6 separate regions of the Homo sapiens genome follow, and all the other regions are linked to region 1. Evidence: fine-mapped expression QTL. A gene starts in region 1. Each other region holds a variant in brackets. All regions are shown on one strand. Distances are from middle to middle.

Region 1 (5,096 bases):
TTGAAGAAACATAATTGAGTGAACAGAAGAGAGGTTTAAAAACTATTATCCTCGGTGATACCTGAGAAGAGAGTACATTCATGAAACAAATGCAGGGTGTTATTATAGGCCGGCAGTCCAATAGGACTGGTGTCCTTAGAAGAAGAGACACCAAGGGTGTGACTGCATAGAGAAAATGCCCTGGAGGGACACCAAGAGAAGACAGTCGTCCACGAGGCAGGGGAGAGGCCACAGGATAAATCAAATCTGCTGGCACCTTGATCTAGAACTTCCAGGATTGTGAGAAATTTCTGTTGTTTAAGCCATCCAGGCTGTGGTATATTGTTACGACAGCCCTAGCCGACTAACACAGGTACTGTATGTCTTCAGCCTACCTAGGCAAGATTCACTATTAGAAATTGATAGAATAAGAAAAATTCTGATTGCTTCAAAACAGGACTTTTGCTTTAAAAGAGTTAATGATTCAAGAAATAAATGTATTAGGAGATTACCTACTAATACGTATTGATGAAATTATGAAGTTAGAAAATCATCAGTGGATGCTAAAACTTGTGGGTAAAAATTAGATGAGGAATGGGGTGTAATCAAGTAGCACCTCCCCCCAGCATTATTTTTAATCATAAAGAAAAAAATAGTAACTTTATGGTGAAGAAACCTGGCAGACACTACCTTATTTAAGTGAACATCACCTATACTGGGAGAAACCGATGCCATCTGTACCTTGATATCATGCACTGGAAAAGACACATCGCTTTAGTGGTGTTTCTCCAAAAATTCATAACCTGAAAGGGAACATCAAACTTACTTTGAAGGATATTCCACACAATACCTGGTCTGTATTCTTAAATAATGTCTAGTTCAATAAACATAAAAGCCAAGGACGGTTCCAGATCAAAGAAGACTAATGGAGGAATAACTCTTTCATCTGGAATGTTTTTTAAGCAAGAAATACCTGCTTTCGAATTTAAGAGTGCAGATCCTTTTTTTATCCAATTGGTTCGGAGATATAATTACATTATTTTACCACATCTCCTTAAGGCTTTGATCCCTGCTACAATCTACAATATATAAATGCATATGTGTGGCATCCGTCTTATCATCAATTTAGGTGACCAGTAGAAGAAAAGTGCCTGGTGCCAATTTTTATTCCATAGTATAAAATAGTCTCTCAGGACAGGGTTTTTGGTGAGAGAAGCACAGGATGTTGCTGGGTGACTGAGACTGGGTCAGGAAATAGGGAGGCAGAGGGCAACAGTTTCTCTAGAATTTAAAATTTGGTTGCTTTTGGAAGAGAAAGCAAGAGATTCCTGGAAGCCAGAACGTCATGTTTCACAAATGTAAAAGTCCTAGTTGGGAAAGACACATCGCTTTAGTGGTGTTTTCAAATGACTTTTAAAATAGTAGGGTTTTACTTGTAGGTTCTAGCTACAAGTAAAAAGGCTAAAAGCCAGCCTTAGAAACCTGTCAAAAAAGATTTCCAGCAGGGCGCTGGGGAAACGCAGACCGCGCCGGAATCCCCGCCTGGAGAAGCTCTTAATAGGGCGGGAAACTGCGTGCCCCACAAGGTCCCTCAGAGGCACATTGTGGAGACGGGCTCAGGGTAGCAACTTCTGGCGAGTGGAGCGGCTATTACACAAGCGAAACATTCGGAAGCAATTTACTTCCAGCTTTCGCAACACCCACCCTGAGCCACCACCCTCCCTTACACAGTCACGCCACAAACTTCCCCACTTCCGCCCACAGCCCTCTGGGCTTCGACCCATCAACTGAGCTTGCGCCAAGTCTACTGCGCACGCGCCAACTTCGGCCCAATCAGCGTCCCAAACCGTGGGGTGGACGCCACCGGGATAAACTATCCTCAGCGTGGGGCGGGGTCTCGAAGCCGAATAACGAACGTGATTAGCCAGCCTCTTCCACAGACTTTTAAGGGCGGAGCCTGGCCCTGGAGACACGTCTGGAGAGCTGTTCTCCTAATATGGGTAGGGTCGGGCGTGGAGCTGGCAGCGGCGCTGTGTGCGCCTGCGCGGGGCGCCGAGACAGGGCGTGTTCGCTGTTCAGTGCCGGTGTTGCAGGGAGTGAGGGCAGCTGGAGTGCGTTCTGCCGAAGCTTGTGGTTGCACGCCCATCGTCTTAGGGGCTACCTTCCGTGGTGAGTGTGTGCGGTGTTGCACTTGGGGTTGCTTCTCGCTGCGTGGCCGCAGCGGGGCTGAACCCTTCCCACTCCATCCCCTCCCCGCACCCGGACCAGCCCCTGGGACGCCCTCGGACGCCCACCCGCTCCAACCCTGGGGAAGCCTCAGAGTGGCAGCGAAGGCCTCTTGCCTTTCCGCCTCTGCGCTTGCTGTCATCGCCCACGTGCTTTGTTGTTGTTCGGTGCAGACCATGTCCAAGTCTCTGAAGAAGTTGGTGGAGGAGAGCCGGGAGAAGAACCAGCCCGAGGTGGACATGAGTGACCGGGGCATCTCCAACATGCTGGATGTCAACGGCCTCTGTGAGTTCTCGGGCAGGACTCTCCCGTGGATGAGCTGGAAGGCTTTCTAAGTTTGCCAATTCACTGCTGGTCCTGCTGTGAGCGATTGTACTGGTTTAGACCCCAGCCCCTGCTTGTAAACCTCACTTGTCAGGGGCTTCGCGCAGAGGGTTTGCAGTAGGATTTGTTCTGTTCCACCTGGAAAACGATCCTGAGAGTCCACGATGAGAATCACACAGACAGCTGTGCCTCATCGGTTGTCTCTGCTGTATGGCATTGAGGTGGATTTTCCACAGTTTGCTTAATAGTCACTTTAATTATAAATTGAAAATTAATTTTGAGTCCTTCTTCCTGTCTCCTAATACAGTCTTTGTCCATGAACAAATGACACAGAAAAGTTCCATGGTTAATAAGCATTCTTGTGCCTGGAGCGTTTTAAGCATTTCTTGAATCTTTACATTCTTCTGAGTATTTATTCTCCGAACTTGGTTCAGGCTTTTGTCACCTCCTCATGCTGTGGTGAAATCCTCCTAACTTGCCCTCTTGCCTTCAGTTTCACTGCCCAGTTTAATCACTGGGTCACTTTCAGTGTCATTTTCCTGTAACCCCTGTCTATGGTGTTACCCTCTCCCTTAAAACCAGGGATTGCAGATTCACATGCCTCCAAGTGAGGGCGGTCAGGGGCGGTTATGAACTAGGTGATAGGTGTCCCACTTGAAGGGGCCAGCTGCTGCACCTGCTACTCAGACACATGTCACCATAGGAATGTTGGCCCAATGTGCCAGATTATTTTCTTAAAGGAACCAAGATTCTATATTTTTATGTGAAATTTGCTAATTTTTAGATGTTGGCTACTAATTCTAATATTTGAAAAACCTGTGATAAGTGAGCTAAAGCAGTTCTTCAGGCTGACGTGGCTTTGGTTTAAACCCTCTCCGCACTTCTCCAGGTTGTCCATTATCGACGGTAATGCTCCAGGTTTCTTGGCGTGATGTACAAGGCCTTTCTGAATCTGAACACAACCTTACCCTTCCATGCAGCTGGCATTCCAGCCATTCTGAACCTGTTGCCCTTCCTGGACCAGAGCCTACTCGTTCAGATCTTGGTGCCTTTACAAATTCTGTTTTCCCTCTTTCTCAGTCGTTTGCACCTGAAATCCTTTTACTTCTAAGAGTCAGCTTAGACATCACCACCTGTGTAAAACCTTATCCGTCTGCACCAGGCTAACATATCCCTTCCCTCCTCTGTGAAGGTGGTCGTGTGTATTGCTTTGTGACTCCTCTCACATAGGATTGTACTGATTTTTTTCTTTTTTAATCTAGAAGTCTCTCTTCTCTGCTGGGACATTGGGAAGACAAAAGCTGTGCAATATTCATGCTTGCATTTTTTTAATAATAGTGCCTGGAGCACAGTAGATGCTCAAAAATAGTTGAGGAATGAAGAAAATGAAAGAATGATGGATTAGGCCTGTGAGTTTGGGATATCAACTCCAGGATGTGACAAGAGAGAAGAAGGGAGATGTTCAGGAGACCCTGAAAGGCGATGGATAGCCATTTAGGCATGGAGAGAACTGCAGAGTCAGGTTTACTGTGAATTCACGGTTTTCACGGTTCGAAAACCTGCCTGGGACAGAGGTTGGAGTTGATGCTATTGATATGTCTTGGCAGAAGGAAAAGGGAGGAAACGTAGATTTGCGTTTCGTAGGCTTTATGAAAATACGTGCCATTAAACTTAGGTTGTGTACTAGTTAGCCTCTCAGGCTTGGTGTGTGTTGGTCTCTTGCATTCCGTAAGGGTCCTTGCTGTCAGCAACTGAGCAGATGCCTCTGGAATTGGATATCTGAGTTTGCCCCTTGCTGCGCCTGCCCGGCTCTGCCATGACCATGGTCATTATTGGGGGCACTGTTGATACAGAGGAGAAAGAGAAGGGGATAGGGAAGATGATGCATAGCGGGAACCTTGGCCCCATGGCCTTCCTCCCTACAGCACTCATTCTCACCAGGTAGAAGAGAGGCTGCTTTCAGCAGAGGAGCTTTGTACCCTTCGGCTTTTGAAGAGGAGACTTTATGTAATATTTATAAATGGGGAGAATGGCTTAGCTATTTCGGTTCAGCTCCGTTATCTCTTTGAAGCCTTGGCTTTTATTAAGGAAGAAAAGCCACTTGCTTCCTGAAATATATTTCCGGTATAACATTGGGTGGTGAAAAGCGAGATCATTCTTAAATTTTCCTAAAGAAGTAGCTAACAACGGATAATAGTACTTTTTGGGAAGTTGGGTGGAAGTGAATTTGGAGATTTGCAGATTCCATCTCCTCTGGCTTCTGTAGCATTGAGCCAAGGCTGCTCTCTGCAAACTCCCTGACCTCAGGACTTCTCGGAGCCTAGGGGGTTCCAGGATGCTCTTCGAAGCCTCCACCAGGGCTCACTTCTCAGCAGTGCACACACACTGACACAGTGCTTAATATATACAAGTATTAAAATACTTCACATGGCTACATTAATTATAAGTGTAAGAATTTTTTTTTCTTTTTTTTTTTTTTTTTCCTGAAAACAGGGTCTCGCTCTGTCACCCAGGCTGGAATGCAGTGGTGCAGTCACAGCTCCCTGGGGCCTCACCCTCCCAGGCTC
Region 2 (5,096 bases), 62 kb after region 1:
CAGTCACTTCTGAAGTCTTGGCTCCTCACCCTCTCTTAGGCTGTTTTTTCATCTCAACATAGCATTAATGACAAGCTCCATCTTACCTGTATTGCAAGGTAGTTTTAGTGAACAAGCGAAGTCCTTGCCATAATGTGCTTCACAAATTGTGACTTCATGGAGAATGTTTGTTCTTGCTGTCGTGGCAGTAGATAGTCGTGGAGGTAGTTTTGCTGGGTGTAGTCTGTCTGGGAAGTTTTCTGCCTGACAGGGGGAACCCGCGTTTCCCTTTTGGTTGCCCCCTCTGCTGTCAGCTGTTTCTGGTGAGGCCCTCTTGGTAGGGCTGGATGGAGCTGAATGTGTTAGGAGAAGGATCGATGGCTAGAATGATTTTTATTGTCACAGTCCCTTCCACCTTTCAGTATCTGTCAACTTTTATTAAATTTTTTTTTTAAAAATTGGCTTTTAAGTATGCTCAAAGGGAACTGCGTTAAGAAAAATAAGGGGCTTGAAGAAAGGATAAAAGATAGTGTAGAAAAAAATTCCCTTAGACTTCACTGGAGACACGCCCACACACACACACGCACACCCACACATACCCACACGCACCACACCCACAGCACACACACATACCGTGTACAAACACACCCACACACACACCACACACACACTGCGTACACACACACCACCACACCCCCAAACACACCCTATACACACACCACACCACACTCATACCTACCCCACACCACACACATACCCGCCCCCACACAGCCCCCCACGTCCTTCACACACCACACCCCACCCCTCACACACCACACGAAACACCCAGATACACATACACATAACATCACACACAATACCACACACACACAGCACACACCCCACACACACACTCACACACAATTGACCCTTGAGCAACACATGGGTTGCGGGAGCAACACAATGACTCATGCAGTCAAAAATCCACACATTACTTTTGACTCCGAAAAATCTTAATTCCTAATAGCCTACAGTTGGCTGGAAGCCTTACCAAAACTAGAAATAGTTGATGAACACATATTTTGTATGTTACATGTATTCTATTCTGCATTCTTACAATAAAGTAAGCTAGAGAAAAGAAAATGTTATTAAGAAAGTCGTAAGGAAAAGAAAGTGCATTTACTGTGCTTTAAGTGGAAGTGGATCATCTTAAAGGTCTTCGTCCTCTTCATGTTGAGTGGGCTGAGGAGGAAGCGGAGGGTTGGTTTTGCGGTCTCAGGGGTGGCAGAGGTAGAAGAAAAATATCCATGTCTCATTGGACCCAGGAAGTTCAAACCCATGTTGCTCAAGGGTCAATTGTATGATTTAAAAATTTTTTAGGTTGTGATAAAATGCACACAAAATGTACCGTCTTTGTAGTAGACAGTTCAGTGGTGTTAAGCGTATTCACATTGTTGTTCAGCCAATCCCCAGAATTTTCTCATCTTGCAAACCTGAATCCTACGCCCATTAAACCACACCTCTCCATTCCCCCTCCCTCCAGCCCCTGGCCATCACCATTCTAATTGAAGATAATTTTCAGTGTTAGCAGTTGTAGAACAAAAACATGATTTTCCCTCCAAAAAAGGAATAAATGGAATGAAATCAAGCAAAAGCCTGAAAACTACAAAGCTTCATGTGTATATTTTGAGATATTATCACTACGTTCATAGGGAAGTTGTTCTTTACAAGGAAAGATATTTTGTAATGGTTTGAGTTTTTGTGTAAAGCAGTGATTAAGTTTCACCGTTGGAGGAAAATAACAGCTAAGAAATTTTCAAGTGTTTCAAGATCATGTAAGCTGTCTGACTGAAATTATTAGCCTAAATAGGACAACATACCACACCTTCTCACTTATATGTGGAATGTAAAAAAGTAAACCTCATCGAAACAGGGAATAAAATGGTTACCACAGGCTGGAGGGAGAGGGGAATTGCAGAGATGTTAGCCAAAGGACATGAAATTTTAGTTAGGAGAAATAAGTTCAAGAGATGGATTGTACATCATGGTGACTGCAGTTAATAACAATATGTGGTATAATTGAAAATTGCTAAGAGAGTGAATTTTAAGCAGTCTCACCACAAAAGACAAAAAAAATGACAAGCATATGAGGCAGCGCGTGTGTTAAATAGTATGATTTAAACCATTCCATGATGTAGTATACATACATCAGAAGTATCATGTTGTACACCATAAGTATGTACAATCTTTGTCATTGTAAATATTAAATAAATGCTTTTTTTAATTAAAAAAAAAAAAGGATGGGCATGGGGGCTCACGCCTGTAATCCCAGCATTCTGGGAGGCCTAGGTGAGAGGATTGCTTGAGCTTAGGAGTTTGAGACCAGCCTGAGCAACATGGCAAAACCCCATCTCTGCAAAAAATACAAACATTAGCAGGGCGTGGTGGCGTGCATCTGTGGTCCCAGTTACTTGGGAGGCTGAAGTGGAAGGATCGCTTGAGCCTGGGGAGGTTGAGGCTGCAGTGAGCTGAGATCATGCCTCTGCACTAAAACCTAGGCAACAGAGTAAGACCCTGTCTCAAAAAAATAAAAAATAAAAATAAAGTATAAAGTGACTCTAGGATCATGGCACTGTCTTACACTTTCAGCGTCTGAAACAGAGGTGCCCTTGATAGTCTGTATGAA[T/C]GTGTCTTTGGTGTCATGACATAGATTTTTGTCCCCCTGCAACAGCATGAACAGGCTGAACACTTTGCCACGAGGCTTCGGCTCCCTGCCAGCTCTTGAGGTTCTGGACTTGACGTACAACAACTTGAGCGAAAATTCTCTTCCTGGAAACTTCTTCTACCTGAGTAAGAAACTTTCAATTCTATAAATCTCCTCAACCTTGTACTTTGCGTTCTGAGAGGGAAATTTATTTGCCAGGACCCAAACTCCAAGAGAAATTATTGGACAGAGATAATTTTTTCTTTAGAGACTCCTTTTGAATATTCCTTCGTAGCTCAGCAGTATGTGCATTTGATAGATCGTTATGTGACACCATTGGGCTGAAGTGGACTTAGTAATGTCATATTAACATTCTGAGAGAGATTATATACCTAAATGAGATCAAGCCTCACATTTAGCTAAGAGACTTGACTTTCTTTTTAAATAGCATGCCAAAAAAAAAAAAAAAAGTATCTTCCTATGTTGCTATTAATTCTTTGTAGGATATTTGCCCAGGATATTCCAACCAATTATTTATTAAAAATATTTATTAATAAACCAGTAACACAATTTTAAAATTTTCCAGCCAGTATTCCTATTTTGAGCCTTTTAAAAAGTACTCTTATTGACCTATTTATCCAGTACACAGGCATTAAGAAATTATTGGCCACAGGTGAACACACTTTATTCTTTCATATGCAAACAAATTTCTTGCTGGAGATGCTTTTGAAAATTAAAAAATGATTTCTTCTGGGAACTCATGCACTATTTTGGACAAGGTTTGCTTCCCTTAAATCAGTGTTCTATTTCTTCAAATAGTAACTTGTGTGGCATTCAGAAAATCTGAATTTTCAGAGCTGATCTCTAAAATTTTATTTTTTACCTTACGTACATTACCTTTCTATGACTTTCTCAAGCACATGAAACCAACTATAAAATATTTTCTTGGGCAGTGGAGCAACTATTTTTATTATGTTATATTAACATGCAGTTCTCGGGAGTATGAGCTACAAAGATCACTTGAGGCTAGGAGTTCAAGACCAGCCTGGGCAACATAGAGAGACCCTGTCTCTAGAAATAAAAATTTAAAAAGTAGCCAGGCATAGTAGCATGAGCCTGTGATCTTAGCTACTTGGGAGGCTGAGGTAGAAAGAGTGCTTGAGGCCAGGAGTTTGAGGCTGCAGTGACCCACTGCACTCCAGCCTAGGTGACAGAGCGAGACTCTGTCTCTAAAAAATAAATACGGGTAAACAAAACATGTATCTAATTATACTCAGCTTTTTTGGTTGAAGATAAACAGATGCTTTAGAATTTTAGCCTTCAGTAGGTTGGAATCGTATTATCATTGTGTAATAATTATGAACAAATTTCTGACTACTGATATTCTCCTTAAGTTAGGATTTACTCTGTTAACTTCATGTCATTATTTTAGCCTCTTTGTCTTCATTTACTTTTGTCCTTAAGGCTGTAGAAACACGTAGTAATAATTAGTCAGATTATGGAACTGATGAGCTGTGGTTATAGCCTCCATCACCAGAAAGCCTTCCATTAATTTGTAACACAGTGCTATTTACATAGGAAAAGGTCTATTTTAACAGAGCTGTATTCTCTTGAAAGAACCCTTTTGCCCTAGGTATCCATAAAAGTGGCACAGTAGTGTTCTTTGTTTTACTTTGGATGCAAATGGAGAAATAAATGTGAATCAAAAGTAATCTATGAGAAGTATAGCAATCTTTTCTGAAAATGTGCTGAAACTCTGTGCCCCAAAATGCTGGCGCCCACAGTTGTTAATTGCGTCATTCCTCTTGGATATAGATGTTTTCCTGGACACACCAGCTACACAATAAGCCAGTAAATCTAAGTTTGACCTGCTTGTTATTATTGGGAGCCCTAGGTATGTCAAAGGCTTTTCACCAAGCCAGGGTTATTAATCAAAGCTGACTCCCTCGTATTGATCAGACCTCAAATGGTTGTGTTCCATGCCACCCTGTTTATATATTGCTGTTTAATTTGCAGCCACCCTGCGTGCACTCTATCTAAGTGACAACGATTTTGAAATCCTGCCGCCAGATATTGGGAAGCTCACAAAGTTGCAGATAGTAAGTAATTTATCTAAATTCTTAGAAAATCAATTCACTGCTGCAGCCTTGTAGGGGTAGAATCAAGTCAATTTGAGCAGGAGTAAGGTTTGTTTTGTGGGAATAAACCACTACTCCTGATAGTGTTTCTTGATTATCCGCCGGCACTTGTAAATACATGGAAAGGATTGAGCTTTAGTAGAAGAGAGGACATAGAGGATGAGAGTTTCTGTGGAGCACCTTTTAATGTGTAAATATGTTGACAACTTGTTTTCTTCTGTTTAGCTCAGCCTTAGGGATAACGACCTGATCTCGCTGCCTAAGGAAATCGGGGAGCTTACCCAGCTTAAAGAGCT
Region 3 (5,096 bases), 220 kb after region 1:
AGCCCTTCCCCTCTGCCTGTCAGCCATGGTGGAGATGTCATCAAGAACACTAGTATTGGACGCCAGGCACAGTGGCTCATCCCTGTAATCCCACTTTGGGAGGCCAAGGCAGGAGGATTGCTTGGGGCCAGGAGTGTAACACCAGCCTGGGCAACCTAGTGAGACCCCATGTCTATTAAAATAATTTTTTTGTTGGGGCATGGTGGCTCACGCCTGAATCTCAGCACTTTGGGAGGCCAAGGTGGGTGGATCACTGGAAGTCAAGAGTTCAAGACCAGCCTGGCCAACATGGTGAAACCCCATTGCTACTAAAAATATGAAATTAGCTGGGCATGGTGGTGCATGCCTGTAAGCCCAGTTACTCAGGAGGCTGAGGCAGGAGAATTGCTTGAACCTGGGAGGCAGAGGTTGCAGTGAGCCAAGATCACACCACTGCACTCCAGCCTGGGCAACACAATAGGACTCCATCTCAAAAAAAAAAAAATATATATATATATGATATATAATAGATAATATAGTATATTTTATATGATATATATGATATATTATCTATATGTATCATATATTATCTATGATACATATAATATACAGATAATATATGATATAGATAATATATGATATATATCATATATATCATATTATCTATCATATATATCATATAATAGATATTATATATGATATATATATTTTTTTTAATTAGCTAGGCATGGTGGCATATATCTGTAGTCCAGCTACTCAGGAGGCTGAGCCATGAGATCGCTTGAGCCCAGGAGTTTGAGGCTGCAGTGAGCTATGATCATACACTGCCCTCCAGCCTGGGGAGCAGAGTGACAGAGTGAGACACTCAGGAAAAAAAAAAAAATGCCGGACGCCAGTATATGCTAAACAGCCCAAGATGCCAGCATCCAGAGAGTGTGCATATTCCTTGTGTGGATGCTGGAGCTGGGCCACCTGGTACAGGGACGTCAGGCTCTGTGCCAACCCTCATTCACAGCAACTGCGGGCTGTGGAGCCGGGTATGCCCTTGCTGCAGAGGACCTGAGACACCCACCAGGCTCTCTTGGAGACACAGTTATATCAATAAAAGGAGTTAAGTTTGAGCTGTATTTATTTTAGGGTGGCTTTTAATTTGGTTTAATCAGAATTACTCATAAATTATCGATTAATTACCTTCTGCTGTTCAGTTAAATCCTCTCAGCCACGGAGCCAGCTTCGCTGCGCAATGAATGCCATCCACCGTAATTATAGGGCACTTTGTCAGCATTTAATCAGCGGTACTTATTAATGTGGCATTGATGTGTGGTGGCCAGCCCCACGCTATCCATCATGGGTGAGCAGCCAGCACAGATTTGGACACCATTGCTCTCTGTCCCATTAGCCAGCCCCTGGGCTTTCGGGCCAAGCATCATGCTCGCTTTTCACTAAATGGACACTCTGTCTCTTCCATTCAATCCCATTTTTATCACTGTCGACTTAAACACTCATAAGCTTTTGAACTTCAGTCCAGAACGGCTGAGCAGGGCCTGACCACTTCTCCCAGTGAGTGTGAAATCCCAAGAGACTGGTCCGTGATCGGACATCATGGCATGGCGTGCATGTGTAAGAGAATTTTATATTCAACACAGCGTAGCACCCAGAGAACACAGAAGTGATCTTTTGGTTTTCTTTGGCTTACTGAATATTTTTGGAGATTCTTCTATTCCTGAAAGCTCTTCCAGTGAAAGCTATCTTGTGTTGGCAAAATAGATCTGATAGTGTCCTTTCTCTGTCTTTGCAGCCTCTACGGCAGACACATGCAGGCCAACCCAGAACCACCGAAGAAGAATAATGACAAATCGAAAAAGATCAGCCGGAAACCCCTGGCAGCCAAGAACAGATAAGGAAGGGATTGGCATCGGCTGGCCTTCCAGCACCTTCTCTCTCCAACACTTCATTCTCTCTTGCCCTGTCTCTCAAATAAACCCAATGCTGCGTGTGAGGCCTTTTTTATTTTTCTTTTCACTCTCTTTCTAATGCTTCCCACCTTACCTTTTAGATTCTTTTGCTAGGTGGGAGATTGTTATAAGGTCTTTAAACCATTTCCATTTGTTTCTTT[A/CTTTA]ACATTACCAAAAGCAGGGAACAAAGCTCTTATTCAACTGCGAATTCCATAGTGGGCTCTGGCTTTTCTTGAATAGATATCACAAGGTTGCTTATTATCAAAAGAATAATTAAAATCATGTAACCATTTAAATGTCACTGTTAACACTTTTCACTCTTTCTGTTGATTCACCTAACTCATTATTTTGCTTTATTAAAAGTCTTCCTTCACCACCGAGATATGCTAATTTAACTTACAAATGATTTTAATAAAATCTTGAGTTTGTATCACATGTTACTTATTGACTCAGAATAAAAGAACAGTCTGATCTTGGGGTATAACACATTTTCATTTACTTTTCTCCCCCAAAATCATCTTATCCAATTTTATTGGTTATACATGATAAACTTTTCATGAAAGAAATGCAAAATTAAATCACAGTTCGTTTCTTCTCACATTAATTTGTCAAGTTTTTTTTTTCTTTGAAGACTTTCTAAATTAGGAAGCAGAAAAACAAATCTCTAGGAGATTCTGCCAAAGGATTTTGGAAAGTAGCATTCCTTCGCCGAAGAAATGGTGATTTCTGCCAGGGGCTGGTAGACAAGAACTGTGAAAGAGAGAGAGAAAAAACCTCAACTGTGTATTTTGTCACGGCGGAAAATCTGCTCGCATCGAAGCATTCTTCTAAGCGACTTCGATGCCAAGGAAGTTGTGTAAATGTGCACGCGCTACACCACACCCAGGGTGGAAACCACAGTTGCAGAGTCATTAAACAATCAATTGTTTGTTTAACATCTGTGATAGGCAGCTTTCCTTCTTTTCAACAGTGATACCTACGAAAATCAAAATAAATGCAAGCTGAGGTTTTGTGCTCACTGAAAGGGCTGTCAACCCCAGAAGGCCGACACAAAAAAAATGGTATGTGAAGATGCACCGTCTTTTCAAATGGCCTGGGAGAGTCAAATGGCCTGGGAGAGGGGGCCTGCCCTTCTCTGCTGTGTCCTTTCGGCTTCCCAGTTGAGCTCCCAAGACCAGGACCCACTGGGGCATATAAAATCTCTGCTGTATCCTTTCGGCTTCCCAGTTGAGCTCCCAAGACCAGGACCCACTGGGGCATATAAAAAAGTCAAAAATCAAAATCAAACAACAAGTTCTGAGTTACTTAGGAAACAGACTTCGCATTTCAATCAGAGAGGCCACAGAGCAAGGTCTAAACTTCTGGCTTCTAGACAAATTCCTGATAGAACATTTAAATGTGGGAAGTGGCTTCCCCAGGTCCCATCCCCTGTTTAGGGATAGAGTTGATATCATTTTTATAGGTGCCATGTATGCCTCTGCCTGAATTTTTTTAATTGACTTTTGAGCTTTTGAGATTGCACGAGGGAGAACAAGGCCTTTGCTGTTGTGGATAGGAAAGACTTAACCTAAAATTAAACCAGCAAGAAAGCATTAGTAAAAATCTAACAATATGAAGGGCTCTTATGAGTCATTTTTTTCAAAAGATGAAAACTCCAGAAACGCACAGGAACGAAATACCTCCCAGAAACATGAAGCAATCATCGAAGACTCACTGGTAATATTTTTAAAAAGTATACAGATCAAAGCAAAAAGAAGCCATGTGTAACAAAGAGAAATGTGCAAATATTTTTTAAGGCAGTATTAAGTGCAAGAGGAGTAACATGAAATAAACATTCTTTCACATGGCTACTGGGAATATAAATTTCGCTCCAGAAAGGCCGTAGCAGTTTGACGATAGGTGGCAAAACCTTAAGATTGTGTACTGGGGCCCAGAATTTTTATTTCTAGGAATGTATCCTGAGGAAATTATCCGAGATCCCCACAAACTGCAATGTTTAGGAATTGTCCTTATAGCATTGCATACACAAGAAAAACAGAGAAAAGCCTGATCCCTGTCAGTGGAAAAGGGGTTCAATGAATTACGGTGTGTCTGCATGAGGCTTTTATGACATTAAAAATTGTTGAACAACGGCCAGGCACAGTGGCTCATGCCTGTAATCCTAACACTTTGGGAGGCCAAGGTGGGAAGATTGCCTGAGCTCAGGAGTTTGAGACCAGCCTGGGCAACACGGTGAAACCCCGTCTCTACTAAAATACAAAAAATTAGCCGGGCGTCGCAGCATGCGCCTGTAGTCCCAGCTGCTCAGGAGGCTGAGGCAGGAGAATTGATTGAACCCGGGAGGCAGAGGTTGCACTGAGCTGAGATTAAGCCACCGCACTCCAGCCTGGGCGACAGAGCAAGATTCCGTTCCCAAGAAAAAAAAATTGTTCAACAATAAGGGCAAAGGGAGAGAATCATAACATCTGATTAAACAGAAAAAGCAAGATTTTTAAAACTAACTATATAAGGATGGTCCCAGCTGTGTCAAAAGGAAGCTTGTTTGTAATACGTGTGCATAAAAATTAAATAGAGGTGAACACAATTATTTTAAGGCAGTTAAATTATCTCTGTATTGTGAACTAAGACTTTCTAGAATTTTACTTATTCATTCTGTACTTAAATTTTTTCTAATGAACACATATACTTTTGTAATCAGAAAATATTAAATGCATGTATTTTTCAAAATCAAATTGGTATGTCATGGTATATTATGCAATCCAGGAAATATATATTTAAGCTCAAGGCATAATATAAAATGTCAGGAGGGTTTTTTCTCTTTTTGTTACCAAAATGGATTTCACGTCTTTTCCTACAGTTTTTAGTTACTTGATATCTGGATCAGCAAACAAAATATCCAAAGTTTGAAAGGTGGCCTTTTTTTTTTTTGAGACGGAGTCTCTCTCTGTCACCTAGGCTGAAATGCAATAGCGTGATCTCAGCCTACTGCCACCTCCGCCTCCCGGGTTCAAGCGATTCTCCTGTCTCAGCCTCCCGAGTAGCTGGGATTCCGGCACCCGCCACCACGCCCAATTAATTTTTGTATTTTTAGTAGAGACGGGGTTTCACCATGTTGGCCAGGCTGGTCTCGAACTCCTGGCCTCAGGTGATCCATCTGCCCGCCTC
Region 4 (5,096 bases), 21 kb after region 1:
TGGGTAATTTATGAAGGAAAGAGGTTTAATTGACTCACCATTCAGCATAGTTGGGGAGACCTCAGGAAACTTACAATCATGGCGGAAGGGAAAGCAAGGTGCCTTTTTCACAAGGCAGTAGGATGGAGAAGTGCTGAGCGAAGGGGGAAGAGCCCCTTATAAAACCATCAGATCTCATGAGAACTCACTATCGGGGGAACAGTATGGGGGAAACCACCCCCATGATTCAGTTATCTCCACCCGGTCTCTCCCTTGACATACGAAGATTATGAGGATTACAGTTCAAGATGAGATTTGGGTGGGAACACAGCCTAACCATATCAGAACTTTTAAATACCTTTTATTTCAAGAAAGTATTTTTATTGTGATTTTTAGTCTATGAGCTCTTTCCTTATGTTCTTTATGGTTTTCTGGGGTCTGTATGTTGATTTTTTTGCCCATCTTTAATATTTGTCACTTTTGCCCAGATCCCTGTTCTTGCTTCATTTCTTTGTTTTAAAAGAAATCCCTCATGCCTATAATCCCAGCACTTTGGGAGGCCGAGGCAGGCATATCAGGTGAGGTCAGGAGTTCGAGACCAGCCTGGCCAACATGGTAAAACCCCGTCGCTACTAAAAATACAAGAATTAGCCGGGCGTGGTGGTGGGCACCTATAATCCCAGCTACTCTGGAGGCTGAGGCAGGAGAATCCCTTGAACCCGAGAGGCGGAGGTTACAGTGAGCCGAGATTGCCCCGCTCCACTCCAGTCTGGGCAACAGAGAGAGATTCCATCTCAAAAAAAAAAAAAAAAAAAAAAAGAAGAAATCCCCACTTTAACTTCTGTTTCTTGTAAAGTATTACGTATTGTGTTTATTTGCTCTTATATGTCTTTGAATTTAGCTTTCATTTCTGAAATAATTTTTTTTGTTTCTAATTTTTTTCTTAAGTTTTGTCCCTTTATTGCTGAATTTTTGGAAATCAGATTTATGTTTCTGTTTTGTGTCATGTATCATTGTTGTAATGGCTTTTTACCTTGTTTTGAAATAGTCAATTATAGTTTTGCCCTGTGTTCTGGGCATCTTTTTGGTTAGTGAGTTTTCATGGTCAATGATGTTCTTCTACACTTTCTTTTTCCTTTTATTCCATAATAACGTTATGGGATTTGCTCCCAATATTTTTTATGTTGCTCATTTTTAAATGAAATTAATTTTCCTAAACTTTCAGAGGAAGGCTTAGTTCTAGATAGCTTTTCTAACTTTACAGAGCTCTGTCCTCTGGTTGATTTTATGTAGTTTTCAGAAATACAGTGGCTTGCTTTCAGATGACTTGGTTCAGTCCTTCTGCCCACTTTTATCTGGATCTTCTCTATCCTTGGTCTCTTTTTCTCTCTCTTTTTAAAAGCGTTTTATTTTTACTTACTGCTCCTTGTGGAGTAGGGCTACCCTATAGGCAGTGTGCCTCTATCATTGGTCTCTATTATTTCTGTCTTATCCAGCTTTGATTCTAGGCCCTGTCCTGCAAGGGAGCCCTAGGTGGTCAGTTTCCAGGTCACAGGGCCTAGACTTGTCCTAATCCATCAGACCCTACTGCAGGCCCTGCTGTTGGAATGGGCAAACCCTTCCTAATTTCAGCTGCTATTCTCACAGAGGTCTTCTGGGCTTTCTGGTGAATTTGTTTAGCTATTCGGGGGTTCTCAGTTGTCAAGTTTGTTAGTTGCCCCTTGGGTTCTCTCTGCTTTCGTCACATGCATGCTGATATCATGCCAATCTTTGGGTTACTGGTAGCTTGTCCTCATCTACTTGTATTTTGGAGTTTTTTGTGGGGACACTTTATAACCTAGTTTTGTTGTAAATTGTGTCCTTGAATTTTTTCTTGCTGCCTAGTTTCTCTATTTTGATGTAGGGTTTCAGGATTCCTAAAATCTGCCATGCTGCCTCCACGTTTCCTGCACCTACACTTTTTCCTCCTTGGTACAGTGGGAAAAATAAGCTTCTCCTCAAATGAAGGATAATGTGTATGTAGTATCTGATGCAGACCAGGTACTCAAAAAATGATCATTGTGATGAACAGTTTGACAATTTCATACTTGTTGAGCAGTGGCATAGTCTGTTTTGAAGCTGCCATTGTGGGAGCTCTGATAAGAGGGGGATTTAGGGGTGAAGAGTCTAATGGGCCTTTGGGGTGAGGAAAGAACAAGAGGGTGAGGGTTTGTGGGTGTCATTGATGGCAGATTTGTTTGCAGTGTTGAGAGAAAGGTGGAGGGAATGGACTGGAGCAGGACTGGGAGAAGAGACATCACACACAGTGAAGACGTAGCGAGGCCCTGGAGCAGATCAGAAGAAACACACCTAAGTTTGACTTAGGGGCTGATTGATGATCAATGTCAATCTAGGTGACTGGTTATAGGATTGGAGAAGGCAACACTTGGAGGCCAGGATAAGGGATGACATGTGGGGAGAGAATCAAAATCCAAGGTTAAAAATAATGGTTGAGCTGCCTACGAGACCAAATCATGTTTTGCCTTCGGGTAAGAGCAGGTGGCACACCATGGTCTTCTAATATTTAGTGACTGTTGAGGGACTTAGAACTCTTAGAGCTCCAAGAGTCATGTGGCTTTTGTACAGACAGCAGGTTTAGGATTCCAGCTCCTCCTGCTTG[A/G]AAAGAAGGTTTACTTTTCCCAGGGAAATGTGGGGCCAGGTTCAGGTGAGAAGTATGGGGGAAGGTTGAGGCGGACGCAGAGAGCTGCTGCTCAAGCGGAGAATGGAGAGTGATAGAGAAACGTCTGACATCAGCCCCTGGGAAGAGGGTGCCGGTGCCTCACCTGGGCGGCTTGTTTAGGGGTCCGGGGGGTTGAAGATACACCCAATTTTCTGAAATGCAAAGTGTGCACAGTTAATACTGCTCATGTCTTAACTTTGGCAAAAAAACAACCTGTGTACTTAAACTCCTTGTCTTTTGAACATCATAAAATGCCATGCAGTTGGCAAATTGTGGATGCAACCGGTGGCATATTTGTTTAGCCAGTAAGACAGTATCAGAATTAATCAGCTTCTTGTTTGGAAACAGCTTTTAGGGGGTTCTCTCTGCTTACTAGTTCTGAAATCACAGACAAGTTACATAACCTCTTGTGTCTCATTTTTCTCATCTAAAATTGAGAGGGAAGAAGAGACTACTATTGCCTTGTAGGGTTATCGTGAGAAATAGGTGAATTGATAAAGTTCTTAGAACTGTGCCAGTCATGTTTTAAGCATTTGGTAAGCATTAGCTATTGTTGTTTGTTATTACCTTATTTTTTTTTAATTTTTTTTTTTTTTTTTTTTTGAGATGGAGTCTCACTCTGTCGCCCAGGCTTGGGTGCAGTGGCGCGATCTCGGCTCACTGCAACCACTGCTTCCTGGGTTCAAGCAATTCTCCTGCCTCAGCCTCCCCAGTAGCTGGGATTACAGGCACCCACCATCACACTTGGCTAATTTTTGTATTTTTAGTAGAGATGGGGCTTCACCATGTTGGCCAGGCTGGTCTCGAACTCCTGACCTCAGGTGATCTGCCTGCCCCGGCCTCCCGAAGTGCTGGAAATACAGGCATGAGCCACCACGCCGGGACTGTTCTAACATTTTTGATTCTAGTGAACACATATGTAAAGTGCTCAGCACAACACAGTGATGTAGTGGTCATTACATAAATAATCTTTTTTCTCTCTTTTATTTGTTTCATTTTAAAGATGAGGAATTTGTGCTCCAGAACAATCCAGTGATTTTTCTCAGGATCTCATGGGATGACAGGGCAGGTCTCACCTGCTAGGAACTGTGCGTTCTTTGCTTTGCTTTTGTGTCTTATTTTATTCTAGATAGGAAGGAATTTTCCATTCAGGTTTATATTATTTTTATTATGGTTGGAATTGCTGTCATAAAGGACATTCCATCCAGGTGTCAATAATAATTTTCCAGTTTGCAAAGAAGAAGCTCAAGATTTAGAATCTGGAAACCTTGATTGTACTCTGTTCTGATTCTGCTGGCCCGTGGAATCTTAGAATACCTTTACTTCTCTGGCCCACTGTTTTCTTATCTGTAAATTGAGGAGCTTAAGTTGTTTGATTTCTAGAGTTCCTTTGGCTCCAACATTCTATAACCATGATTTCTAAAACTGCATAAGTTTTGTGTTACACAAATAAAATAGTTTATGCTAGAAAAATTAGTCAATACAAACAAGCTAAAAAGAAAAAAGAAGAGACAGAGGAGGAAGGTAGTTAGAAATAAAACAAAATGGACTCTGGTCCTTGAAGGTTTTATTAACCCTAAAAAAATTTTCAGGCACTTCCCTTTTAATGGGAGTTTCAAAGCACCTTAGTACTTTTATGGTACAAGTCTGCCTGTCAGAGTTCTCCAGAGAAACAGAATCCATAGGCAATATATATATGGAGATTTATTATGGAAATTGGCCCAGGTGATTATGGAGGCTAAGAAGTCACATGATGTGCTGTCTGCAAGCTGGAGAACCTGGACAGTTGGTAATGTAATTTAGTGCAAGGCCAAAGGCTGGAGAGTCATAGGAGGGGTGCGTGTCAGTGATGCAAGTCCCAGAATCTGAAGGCCCAGGAACCAGGAACTCTGATGTCTGAGGGCAGGAGAAGATGGATCTTCATGAATTCTCCCTTCCTCTGCCTTCTTATTCTATTGAGGCGCTCAATGAATTGGTTATTGCTCACCTGCATTGGCAAGGGTAGGTCTTCTTTACTCAGTCCCCTGATTCAAATGCTAATCTCTTCTGGAAACACCCTCACAGACCCTGGAAAAGAACATTTTACCAGCTATCTGGGTATCTCGTAGCCCAGTCAAGTTGACAAATAACATTCACCATCACTTTCTGTATTGTATCCTAGTGTTTTATTTCATCTCCTTATTGCAGAGGAAGCTCATTGAGGGCAGCAGCTGCATCTCACTCATATTCTATCCCTGTCCCACCAAAGAAGTACAGTGGCTTGCAGAGTAGCTGTAGCTCACCAAGTTTTGTTAATACCATCCAGTGACTGCATATCTTAGGTGGCTTACTATATTTTTCTCTTTAATTCTCTCAGGCATCTTCAGAAATAGTTTTTCTGTGTATTTTTTCCTGGAGC
Region 5 (5,096 bases), 200 kb after region 1:
GGGAGGTAACTGAATCATGGGTGGCAGGTTTTTCCCATGCTGTTCTTGTGATAGTGAATAAGTCTCATGAGATCTGATGGTTTTATAAAGAGGGGTTCCCCAGCACAAGCTTTCTTGCCTGCCGCCATGTAAGATGTGCCTTTGCTCCTACTCCACCTTCCACCGTGATTGTGAGGCTTCCCCAATCATGTGGAACTGTGAGTTCATTAAACCTCTTTTTCCTGATAAATTACCCAGTGTTGGGTATGTCTTTCTTAGCAGTGTGAGAACAGACTAATACAGTCATTAAAATTGACAACTTGCATCAGTGTACACATAGAATCTTCTCATACAACACCTTTGGGAACCACTACTGGAAGGAAATGTTACATTTCAGGGACTGAGGCTGGGTACGGGAAACAGAGCCAGTGTCCATAGTGTTAATATTCGTAGGGGCCTCAGATTTAATTTTACCTGTAAGTTTTTCTTACACCAGAAATTTTCAGCCTTAGCACTCTTGATGTTTTGGGCCAGGATGTCCTGTGCAGGGTGGCATGTTCAGTGGCATCCCTGATCTCCACCTGCTAGATGCCAATAACACACCCCCACAGGCGCCCAAGGTGTGACAATTGACAACCAAAAATATCCCTAGACATTGCCAAATATCCCCTGGCAGAGGCAGAATTGCACAGGTTACTACTGTGCCTGTGTCACAAATAAGTCACACATAAGTCATTTTGTTGCTTTAATTCTTCTGTGTGTCCTTGGTCTTAAACTGTTACTTGGTTAAGTACGCAGATTGAAAAAACACTGCAAGGGAATTTTTTAGAGTCTCTCTGCACCTATTCTGGTTTCAGGACTGCCCAGTTTGCATTGTTGTTCAAAATGGAAAGAAGAGAGGGAGGAATTTTTTACAAAATAAAATTCACTACCATTTTTGAGACTTTTTTTTTTTTTTGAGATGGAGTCTCGCTCTGTTGCCCAGGCTGGAGTGCAGTGGCGCGATCTCAGCTGACTGCAAGCTCCGCCTCCTGGGTTCACACCATTCTCCTGCCTCAGCCTCCCAAGTAGCTGGGACTACAGGCACCCATCACCACACCCAGCTAATTTTTTGTGTTTTTAGTAGAGACGGGGTTTCACCGTGTTAGCCATGATGGTCTTGATCTCCTGACTTCATGATCCGCCCGCCTCGGCCTCCCAAAGTGCTGGGATTACAGGCATGAGCGAGACTTTTTTTTTTTTTTTTAACATTTTGTACATATGCCAGTAACTCCCCTCCCGCAAAAATGGAAGATTGTCTTGACCTCTCGTGAGACCTGCTGAGGCCACATCTGGTTCCCCCACTGTAGAGGTGAGTTAGGTCTCCCCACTGAATGTCAGTTCCCAAAGAAATCTCATGTGTAAATGAAAGAGCAGATCCTCCCTCCCCTCCTCACTGTTTTTTGCTTATATGTAGATGTGATTCCTTTCAAGAAAACTCCGTGAGAAATTACTTCACTATCATCCACTATTGACATCAACAGCAGCCTACATTTTTTCAAGATACTTAAAGTGCATTTTCGCTTTTAACTTTCACAACACTTTAATGTTGCTGGTTAATATTATTGATCCCTACTTTTTTATGAGAAAAACTGAACCTCAGATAGGTTAAATAACCTGCTCAAAGCCACACCACTGACATTGCTATTCTGATAAAGCAGAATATTTGAAGCAGTTTCCCCCAAAACAGAGCAATGTTCACGTTAATTATGAAACATAGCATGAATTCATAGGTAGCCTGTCAATAATTATGAGTATGTGGTATACTGATGTCATAATTTTTATATAAATGTATAAACCTGTTGGCACCCTGTGATTGTTACTGGTTTGTTTTTTTAAGTACCTTGGATGAAAACTTGAAAGAAATATACGAAAATAGAAGCAGAAGTTATGTTTAAGTGGGATACTTCTGCAGTTTTCTTTTGAACTCCCTTGTGAATTTCTAAATGGGTTGCAATATATTTTTACTTCTTTGGAAAATGAAATTTGTAAGTTAAAAGTGAAGGGAGATAGATATAGCTAACATAACTGCCAAAGTTGCTTTTTCTCTGTAACTCTAGCTAAGAAATGACCATATTCTGTCCATGTGTCCATAAGTCTAGGCTCAGGAGTCTTTCAGAGTTTATTTGATGTACCATTGAGCTGAGGGCTCTGTCCTGCCACCTTTTGTTCAAGGAAACACACGAGGCACTTCCTTAGGGAACCCAGTGAAGATACCTACTGATGGGAAGCAGGACAGTTGATTCATTCCCTCTGTTTCTGTTTTAATGCTACACTGGGGTGAGATTAAGTGGTACCTCCCAAGAGAAAGAGCAGGGAACCCGATGTGCCTAGATTGGTTCACTGTGAATCACAGCAGTTGTTCCCGTTGACATCACAGAGGGGACATTGATGGTAGATCATGTCACCATCAGCTCTCCCTAGTGAAGACTCCTATCTGGAACCACGTGGAGAAGACTGTGAGGTGAAAACATGCTACTCTCTGTCACATACTGCCAGGTAGATGCTTGCTGCTGGCAGAAGGCATAGAATATTTTGTAAACTACGTGAGTATTCTATCAAGTAATATTTTTCTGAAGCAGGCTTCCATCTGTCTTGCCATTCATTTTTAATTTCTTAGCACTTCATAGTAGACGTGTTTTGAGTATTTTGGTCAGAATTGTAAACATTGTCCTCTAAGGGAATCATTCTCAATGAGGTGCTAAGTACCTGATGTTCAGTCCTCATAACTACTCTATTAGGTAGCAGGTGGAATGCCCATTTTATTTATAATTTTTTTAAAGTTCTGGGATACACGTGCAGAACACACAGGTTTGTTACATAGGTATACATGTGCCATGGTGATTTGCCACAC[C/G]TATGAACCATCATCTAGGTTTTAAGCCCCACATGCATTAGGTATTTGTACTAATGTTCTCCCTTTCCTTGTCCCCTACCCCACCACGGGCCCCAGTGTGTGAGTTCCCCTCCCTGTGTCTTTGTGTTCTCATCATTCAACTACCACTTATGAGTGATAGCATGTGGTGTCTGGTTTTCTGTTTCTGTGTTAGTTTGCTGAGAATGATGGCTTCCAGCTTCATCCATGTCCCTGCAAAGGACTTTAACTCATTCTTTTTTATGGGTGTATATAGTATTCCATGGTGTGTATGTGCCCTATTTTCTTTATCCAGTCTATCATCAAAGGGCATTTGGGTTGGTTCCAAGTCTTTGCTGTTGTAAATAGTGCTGCAGTAAATATACGTGTGCATGTGTCTTTATAGTAGAATGATTTATAATCCTTTGGGTATATACCCAGTAATGGGATTGCTGAGTCAAATGGTATTTTTGGTTCTAGATCCTTGAGGAATCGCCACACTGACTTCCACAATGGTTAAACTAATTTACACTCCCACCAACAGTGTAGTAGTGTGCCTATTTCTCCACAGCCTTGCCAGCATCTGTTGTTCCCTGACTTTTAAATAATTGCCATTGTAACTGGTCTGAGATGGTATCTCATTGTGGTTTTGATTTGCATTCTCTAATGACCAGTGGTGATGAGCTTTTCTTCATGTTTGTTGGCTGCATAAATGTCTTCTTTTGAGAAGTGTCTGTTCATATCCTTTGCCCACTTTTTGGTAGGGTTGTTTTCTTCTTGTAAATTTACTTAAGTTCCTTGTAGATTCTAGATAATAGACCTTTGTCAGATGGGTAGATTGCAAAAATTTTCTCCCATTTGAAGGTTGCCTGTTCATTCTGATGGTAGTTTCTTTTGCTGTGCAGAAGCTCTTTAGTTTAATTAGATCCCATTTGTCTATTTTGGCTTTTGTTGCCATTGCTTTTGGTGTTTTAGTCATGAAGTCTTTGCCCATGCCTATGTCCTGAATGGAATTGCCTAGGTTTTCTTCTAGGGATTTTATGGTTTTGGGTTTTACATTTAAGTCTGTAATCCATCTTGAGTTAACTTTTGTATAAGGTGTAAGGAAGGGGTCTGGTTTCTGTTTTCTGCATATGGCTAGCCAGTTTTCACAGCACCATTAATGAAATAGGGAATCCTTTCCCCATGGCTTTTGTCAGGTTTGTCGAAGGTCAGATGGTTGTAGGTGTGCGGTGTTATTTCTGAGGTCTCTGTTCTGTTCTATTGGTCTATATATCTGTTTTGATACCAGTACCATGCTGTTTTGGTTACTGTAGCCTTGTAGTATAGTTTGAAGTCAGGTAGCATGATGCCTCCAGCTTTGTTCTTTTTGCTTAGGATTGTCTTGGCTATATGGGCTCTTTTTTGGTTCCATGTGAAAGGTAAAGTAGTTTTTTTCTAATTCTGTGAAGAAAGGCAATGGTAGCTTGATGGGAATAGCATTGAATCTATAGATTACTTTGGGCAGTATGGCCATTTTCATGATATTGATTCTTCCCATCCATGAGCATGGAATGTTCTTCCATTTCTTTGTGTCCTCTCTTATTTTCTTGAGCAGTGGTTTGTAGTTCTCCTTGAAGAGTTCCTTCACATCCCTTGTAAGGTGGATTCCTAGGTATTTTATTCTCTTTGTAGCAATTGTGAATGGGAGCTCACTCATGATTTCACTCTCTGCTTATCTATTATTAGTGTATAGGAATGCTTGTGATTTTTGCACATTGATTTTGTATCTTGAGACTTTGCTGAAGTTGCTTATCAGCTTAATGAGTTTTGGGGATGAGACAATAAGGTTTTCTAAATATGCAATCACGTCATCTGCAAACAGAGACAATTTGACTTCCTCTCTTCCTAGTTGAATACTTTCCTTCTCTTGCCTGATTGCCCTGGCCAGAGCTTCCAATACTATAGGAGTGGTGAGAGAGGGCATCTTTGTCTTGTGCCATTTTTCAAAGGGAATACCCGTTCAGTATGATATTGGCTAGAGTTTGTCATAAACAGATCTTTTTGAGATATGTGCTATTAATACCTAGTTTATTGAGAGTTTTTAGCATGATGGGATGTTGAATTTTATCAAAGGCCTTTTCTGCATCTATGGAGATAATCATGTGGTGTTTGTCCTTGATTCAGTTAATGTGATGGATTACTTTTATTGATTTGCGTATGCTGAACCAGCCTTGCATCCCAGGGG
Region 6 (5,096 bases), 100 kb after region 1:
CCAGAGCGGGAAGCAAAGCTGAAACAAGCCATTTTTACATATAACTTAAGTTTAGGTTCTGTATAGTAGGTTGATCCCTTACTTAACCTTTAATAAAATTGGATTCAAGGGTATTTATATGTAAATAAAAAAATAAAGTTAATTTCGTTTCATACTTCCCTATGAGCAAGTGTCTAGTAATATATTACAATGACATTTAAACTTCAGTATTTGTCCTATTGGCTGAAAAAATTCCCATACTTTTTTAGCAACAGGGTTTGAGGTTAGACATTAAAAAGGGAAGGTTCTTAAGATGAATATTAAGATTACGTGATCATATGCACAGTGATGAAATCAGTCTGTATTTGTTTGACCTCTTGTCTCCTATGAAGGTATCTAAGAAGTCATTTCCTCCTATTACATATTTTAGAAATTAAAATTTAATAACGCTTCATACCCTCCAAACTTCTCTGAAAGGGCTCTTTAGTTGTACAGGCATCTAGATCATGGTCAGACTCCTTTTCTAAGTAATGTTATCAATAGTGTATTTGTATACGTGGTTATAGATCAAAGGTTGAAATACGCTTATCAGTGCCTCCTGAAGAGGCAGTCCCCTGGAGTCTTCTTATCTCACCTGATGAGTGTGGTCTTTTGGTGCTCATATCATGTATGGAAGGAGGTGGCAGGGATCAGGAGGGCATATCCCCTTTGCCTCTCATTCCCTACCCGACTTCCCAGAGAAAGCAGCATTTTCAAACTTGCAGAAATATGTGAGGGCTCTCAGAACTGCTTAGGATCAGCCATGTACATTGTGAAAAGTGAGTCATGGCTTTTTCTCTGCAATAGTGTAGACGTTTCTACTCTTAAAAATAAAGATAGATTAAAATATAACACCTCAACTCCAAGAGCTCCAAGCCTCCCACAGAACATCGTAGTCCTGCTACACTCAGTTGAACATTTATGCCCTGGCCCTGGCACCCACCTCCCTTAGCCTGCCTGTGAAGGCGTCTCTCTGATGCCCTATCTAGACCCGTTCTTCCTTTTCCTACATTTGAACTTTTTCTGAGATAGTTTCAGTTTCCATAATCTCTGTGTGATGATTTTCATCAAGAATTCCGACTAAGGAGATTTTATTCTTTTAAGAAGATTTGTTCAACATATACTTACATGAGATTTTGTTCTTTTTAAAGACTGTGTAAATAAATTATCTGATTAAGAAAAATTTTTCTACTTTGTTTTGACTCTTGAATAGGGAAATGCTTGCCTATATTTAAATGCAACCTGCTAAAAATACTTGTTCTGACCTATTAGTGAAGTATATCACACTATCTAAAGCAATCTGTAGATTTAATGCACTCGCTATGAAAATCTCGCTGATGTTTTTTGCAGAAATAGAAAATCCCACCCTAAAGTTCATATGGAATTGCAACAGACCTCAAGTAGTCAAAACAACCTTGAGAAAGAACAAAACTGAAGGATTTAACAATTCCTGATTTCAAACTTGCTACAGTTCCAGTAGTCAAAACAGTGTGGTACTGGCCTAAAGGCAGATATATTGACCAATGGAATAGAATAGAGACCCCAGAAATAAATCCTTGCCTAAATGGTCAAGTGATTTTTTGACAAGTGTGCCCAAACCACTCAATGGGGAAAAGACAGTCTTGTTAAGAAATGATGAAGTGAAAAACTACATAGGCATATGCAAAAGAATGAAGTTGGACCCTTGCCTAATAACATATAGAAGAATTAACTCAAAATGAATAAAAAACCTAAATGTAAGAACTACAACTATAAAAATTTTAGGGGAAATTGTAGGATAAAATCTTCAAGACGTTGGACTTTAAGATGACTTCTTGGCTATGACACCAAAGGCACAGACAACAAAAGAAAAAATAGGCAAATTGGACTTCATGAAAATTTAAGAATTTTGTGCATCAAAAGACAACATCAACACAATGAAAAGGCAACCCAGAGCAATATGGCCAATGAGAGTTGCCTAGTGCTCATCCCTCCCCCAAAAGGGGATCTAAACAACAAGTAAACAACTATATTTCAACTAGAGTGACGAGGAAGTATGCTGGACCGCACTAGGGGAGCAGCAAACTTCCTGTGGTGCATGGAAGGCCAGGACAGCACCATGGACAGGTGAGCGAGGCATCCTGCCTCTGCCACAGTCTCCCCCAGTGGAGACTTGGCAGTCATGGGGTGCTGTTTATGGGGAAATGTATGCTGGTGATTCCCAGCAGTCCCCATTGCCACCAGAAATGCTAGCAGTCTTTGATATAGGAGTCCCCTAAACTTCACAGGCCCCCAATCCAGTTTGGAGAGTAGCCGGGAGCTCACACAGATGCAATGCCTCAGTGTCCACATTGAGGACCCGCAACCTAAGCAGCTTCAACTCTGTCCCATCTTGAACCTTTCCCACTGCTAGAGTGCATCCTGCCCTGCGCACCAGTAGCAATTGACTCTTTTCATCCTGGAGGCCTAGCTGTCCTTATACCACATTCACACAGGTACCTGCAGCACTATGACCATAGCTACCCAAAGCATAGGTCACATGGAATGACTGAGACCCCAGTGTTCAAACCCAAGTGACACACCACATCCCCCCACCCCCCAGGGAACAGGCAGATCTGTACGGTGCTGAAGTCACTGAACAGTCAGCCAATTACCTCTCCTGCACGTACCTGCACCATAGCCACCTGTCCCACCAAGCGCGGTGCATCCATAGCTGGTCCAACTGTTGGTCCTGTGGCAGCCTCGTTCCCGCATACAGACACCCAAAGAGCAGCTGAATGCTGCTATTCTATGTCTAGCCTGACAGCTGGTCCAGTAGCAGCCCTCCCTCCCAAATAACTGCAAGGCTGCCCAACCCCATTTCACACTGGCATCCAGCCCAAGAGCTGGGCCAGTGGTGGACCTGCTCCTCTAGACAGACTCCTACAGGGCCACCTGA[C/A]ACAGCTGCACCTATGTGCAGCTGGCACAGCATCAGACCAGTAGACTCTTCATCCATCCTCTTGAAGAGACAGCCACGTAGCTGCTCAGCTAGCCACACCCATATGCACCTAAGCTCAGCCCAACAGCCAGACTAGTGGTGGCCCCACCTCCCTGAAAAGCCTGTTGGAGAGCCTTTTCGCCCTCCACACCCATACATATTCAGCCCAACAGCCAGCCCAACACCCCTACTCCCAGCAAAACCACACACTACGACCACCACAAATACCTACAGCATAGGCCATTGAGGCAATTGCAGACATTGCTGATGAAGATTGCAGCTGAAAAAACTACATGTAGACCATGCTACTGAGTCCACCCAGAACTAAAGCTAACTCACCACACTCAAATGACACCTTGGGACCTATCTACAGGAAGAATTATCTCCTAATGAAAGTTACTTCATAAACCTGGAAAGGGTCACTATTCCACTAGATGTTCAGATATCAGCATAGGGACACAAGCAATGTGAAAAAGCAAGGAAATGTGATACCTGCAAAGGAATACAATAAGTCTTTAGTAAAAGACCCCAAAGAAAAGGACATTTATGAAATGCCTGAAAATAAGATAATCTTAAGGAAACTCATGGAGATACAAGAGAATACAGCAAATAATTCAGTGAGATCAGGAAAACAATTCATCATCCGAATGAGAAATGCAACAAAGATAAGTGTCATAAAGAACCAAACAGAAATCTTGGAGCTGAGGAATTATGAATGAAATAAAAAGTGCAAGTGAAAGCTTCAACAACAGACTAGATCAGGCAGAGTAATTTCTGAACTTGAAGACAGGCCTCTTGAATTATCCCAGTCAGAGGGAAAAAAAAATAAGAATTTTAATTGAAGAAAGCCTGTGGGACTCATGCGATACCATTAAATGAACAAATGTGTGCATTATAGGAACTTCGTAGGGAGAAGAGTTGGAGAAAGACACAGAAAACCTATGTAATGAAATAATAGATGAAAACTTCCCTAGTCTTGGCAGAAATACGGACATAGGAATTCAGCAAGTTCAGAGGTCCCCAGTTAGATTCAGTCCTCTCTGAGGCACATTATAATCATACTCTCAAAAGTTAAAGACAGAATTTTAAAAGCCACAAGAAAACAGTGTCACATCACACACAAGGGAATGTCCATTAGACTACTAGTAGATTTCTCAGCAGAAACCTTGCAGGTTAGAAGAGAATGGGATGATATATTCAAAGTGCTGAAAGAAGGGGGGCTTGTGGGGAGGAGGAACTGTCAGCCAAGAATATTATATCCAACAAAGTTATCCTTCAGAAATGAAGGAGAAATAAGACCTTTTCAGACAAGCAAAGGCTGAGAGAATTTGTGACCAGTAGGTTGGCCTTATAAGGAATGCTTAAGGGAGTGCTACCACTGGAAAAGAAAGGACAATAATTATCATGAAAACATGTGAAGGTGTAAAACTCACTAGTAGAGGTAAATTCATAAAATACTCTAGTGATTTAATGGTCCTATGTAAATCTCTCAATCCTCTAGTATGAAGACTTAGAAGTCAAAAAGGTCAAAAACAACAACAACCACACTTAGTGGCTACAAATATATAATAAATAAGTAGATTAAGGCAACAAAAATATTAATTGTGTATGGGGTTAAGTCTAGAATATTTTCATGCAACCAGATTTAAATTGCTATCAGGTTGATGTAGTCTATTGTAACTACAAGACTCTTATGTTAGCCCCATGGTAACCACAAAGAAAGAAATTACGACAGAATAATAAACAGTAAAGAGAAAGAAAACAAAACTTCGCAGCACAGAAAACCACCAAACCGCGAAGGAAAATAACATGAGTAAAAGAAAGGGGAAAAGGATCTACAAAACAAGCAGAAAACAACAATATGGCAGGAATAAATTTTTATTGATATGACCTTGAATATAAATGGATTAAAGTCTCAAATTTAAAAACACAGAGTGGTCGAACAGGTTTTAAAAATAAGACCCAACTATCTGCTGGCTACAAGAGGCTCACATCATCATTAAAGACAAACATAAACTGAAAGTGAAGGAATGGAAAAACATATTCCATACAAACAGAAACCAAAAGTGAGCAGGAGTAGCTATAATTGTATCAGATAAGACAGATTTTAAGTCAAAAACTG

Evidence for each region. PIP is the estimated chance that this variant, and not a neighbour inherited with it, causes the effect.
Region 2: its variant is the best candidate, but not a certain one, in a credible set for the expression of RSU1 in whole blood (INTERVAL, PIP 0.54).
Region 3: its variant is the best candidate, but not a certain one, in a credible set for the expression of RSU1 in whole blood (INTERVAL, PIP 0.74).
Region 4: its variant is the best candidate, but not a certain one, in a credible set for the expression of RSU1 in cerebellum (GTEx, PIP 0.86).
Region 5: its variant is the best candidate, but not a certain one, in a credible set for the expression of RSU1 in whole blood (INTERVAL, PIP 0.57).
Region 6: its variant is the best candidate, but not a certain one, in a credible set for the expression of RSU1 in whole blood (TOPMed, PIP 0.51).

The regions. Positions count from the first base shown.
Region 1 is chr10:16,814,367-16,819,462 of GRCh38, reverse strand. It overlaps RSU1 (Ras suppressor protein 1), which reads left to right and starts at 2,039. Exons shown (of 9, transcript NM_012425.4): 1 at 2,039-2,148; 2 at 2,379-2,490. The coding sequence starts at 2,382. It overlaps LOC105376435 (a long non-coding RNA gene), which reads right to left and starts at 1,764. Exons shown (of 3, transcript XR_930708.3): 1 at 1,707-1,764; 2 at 721-782. RefSeq lists enhancers at 1,421-1,470, 1,501-1,590, 1,621-1,730, 2,401-2,560.
Region 2 is chr10:16,752,583-16,757,678 of GRCh38, reverse strand. RSU1 (Ras suppressor protein 1) reads left to right here. Exons shown (of 9, transcript NM_012425.4): 5 at 2,690-2,808; 6 at 4,679-4,761; 7 at 5,026-5,096. Among named protein-coding and RNA genes, the nearest start is that of RSU1, 62 kb to the left of the region's middle. The variant T/C (reference allele first, on the strand shown) is at 2,645.
Region 3 is chr10:16,590,178-16,595,273 of GRCh38, reverse strand. RSU1 (Ras suppressor protein 1) reads left to right here. Exons shown (of 9, transcript NM_012425.4): 9 at 1,778-4,663. The coding sequence ends at 1,880. Among named protein-coding and RNA genes, the nearest start is that of C1QL3, 71 kb to the right of the region's middle. The variant A/CTTTA (reference allele first, on the strand shown) is at 2,096.
Region 4 is chr10:16,793,559-16,798,654 of GRCh38, reverse strand. The region is part of intron 2 of RSU1 (Ras suppressor protein 1); the gene reads left to right. Among named protein-coding and RNA genes, the nearest start is that of RSU1, 21 kb to the left of the region's middle. RefSeq lists enhancers at 2,699-2,758, 2,969-3,188. The variant A/G (reference allele first, on the strand shown) is at 2,639.
Region 5 is chr10:16,616,686-16,621,781 of GRCh38, reverse strand. All of the region lies in intron 8 of RSU1 (Ras suppressor protein 1), which reads left to right. Among named protein-coding and RNA genes, the nearest start is that of C1QL3, 97 kb to the right of the region's middle. The variant C/G (reference allele first, on the strand shown) is at 2,873.
Region 6 is chr10:16,712,102-16,717,197 of GRCh38, reverse strand. The region is part of intron 7 of RSU1 (Ras suppressor protein 1); the gene reads left to right. It overlaps LOC124902384 (a long non-coding RNA gene), which reads left to right. Exons shown (of 2, transcript XR_007062072.1): 2 at 1-1,201. Among named protein-coding and RNA genes, the nearest start is that of RSU1, 100 kb to the left of the region's middle. The variant C/A (reference allele first, on the strand shown) is at 2,936.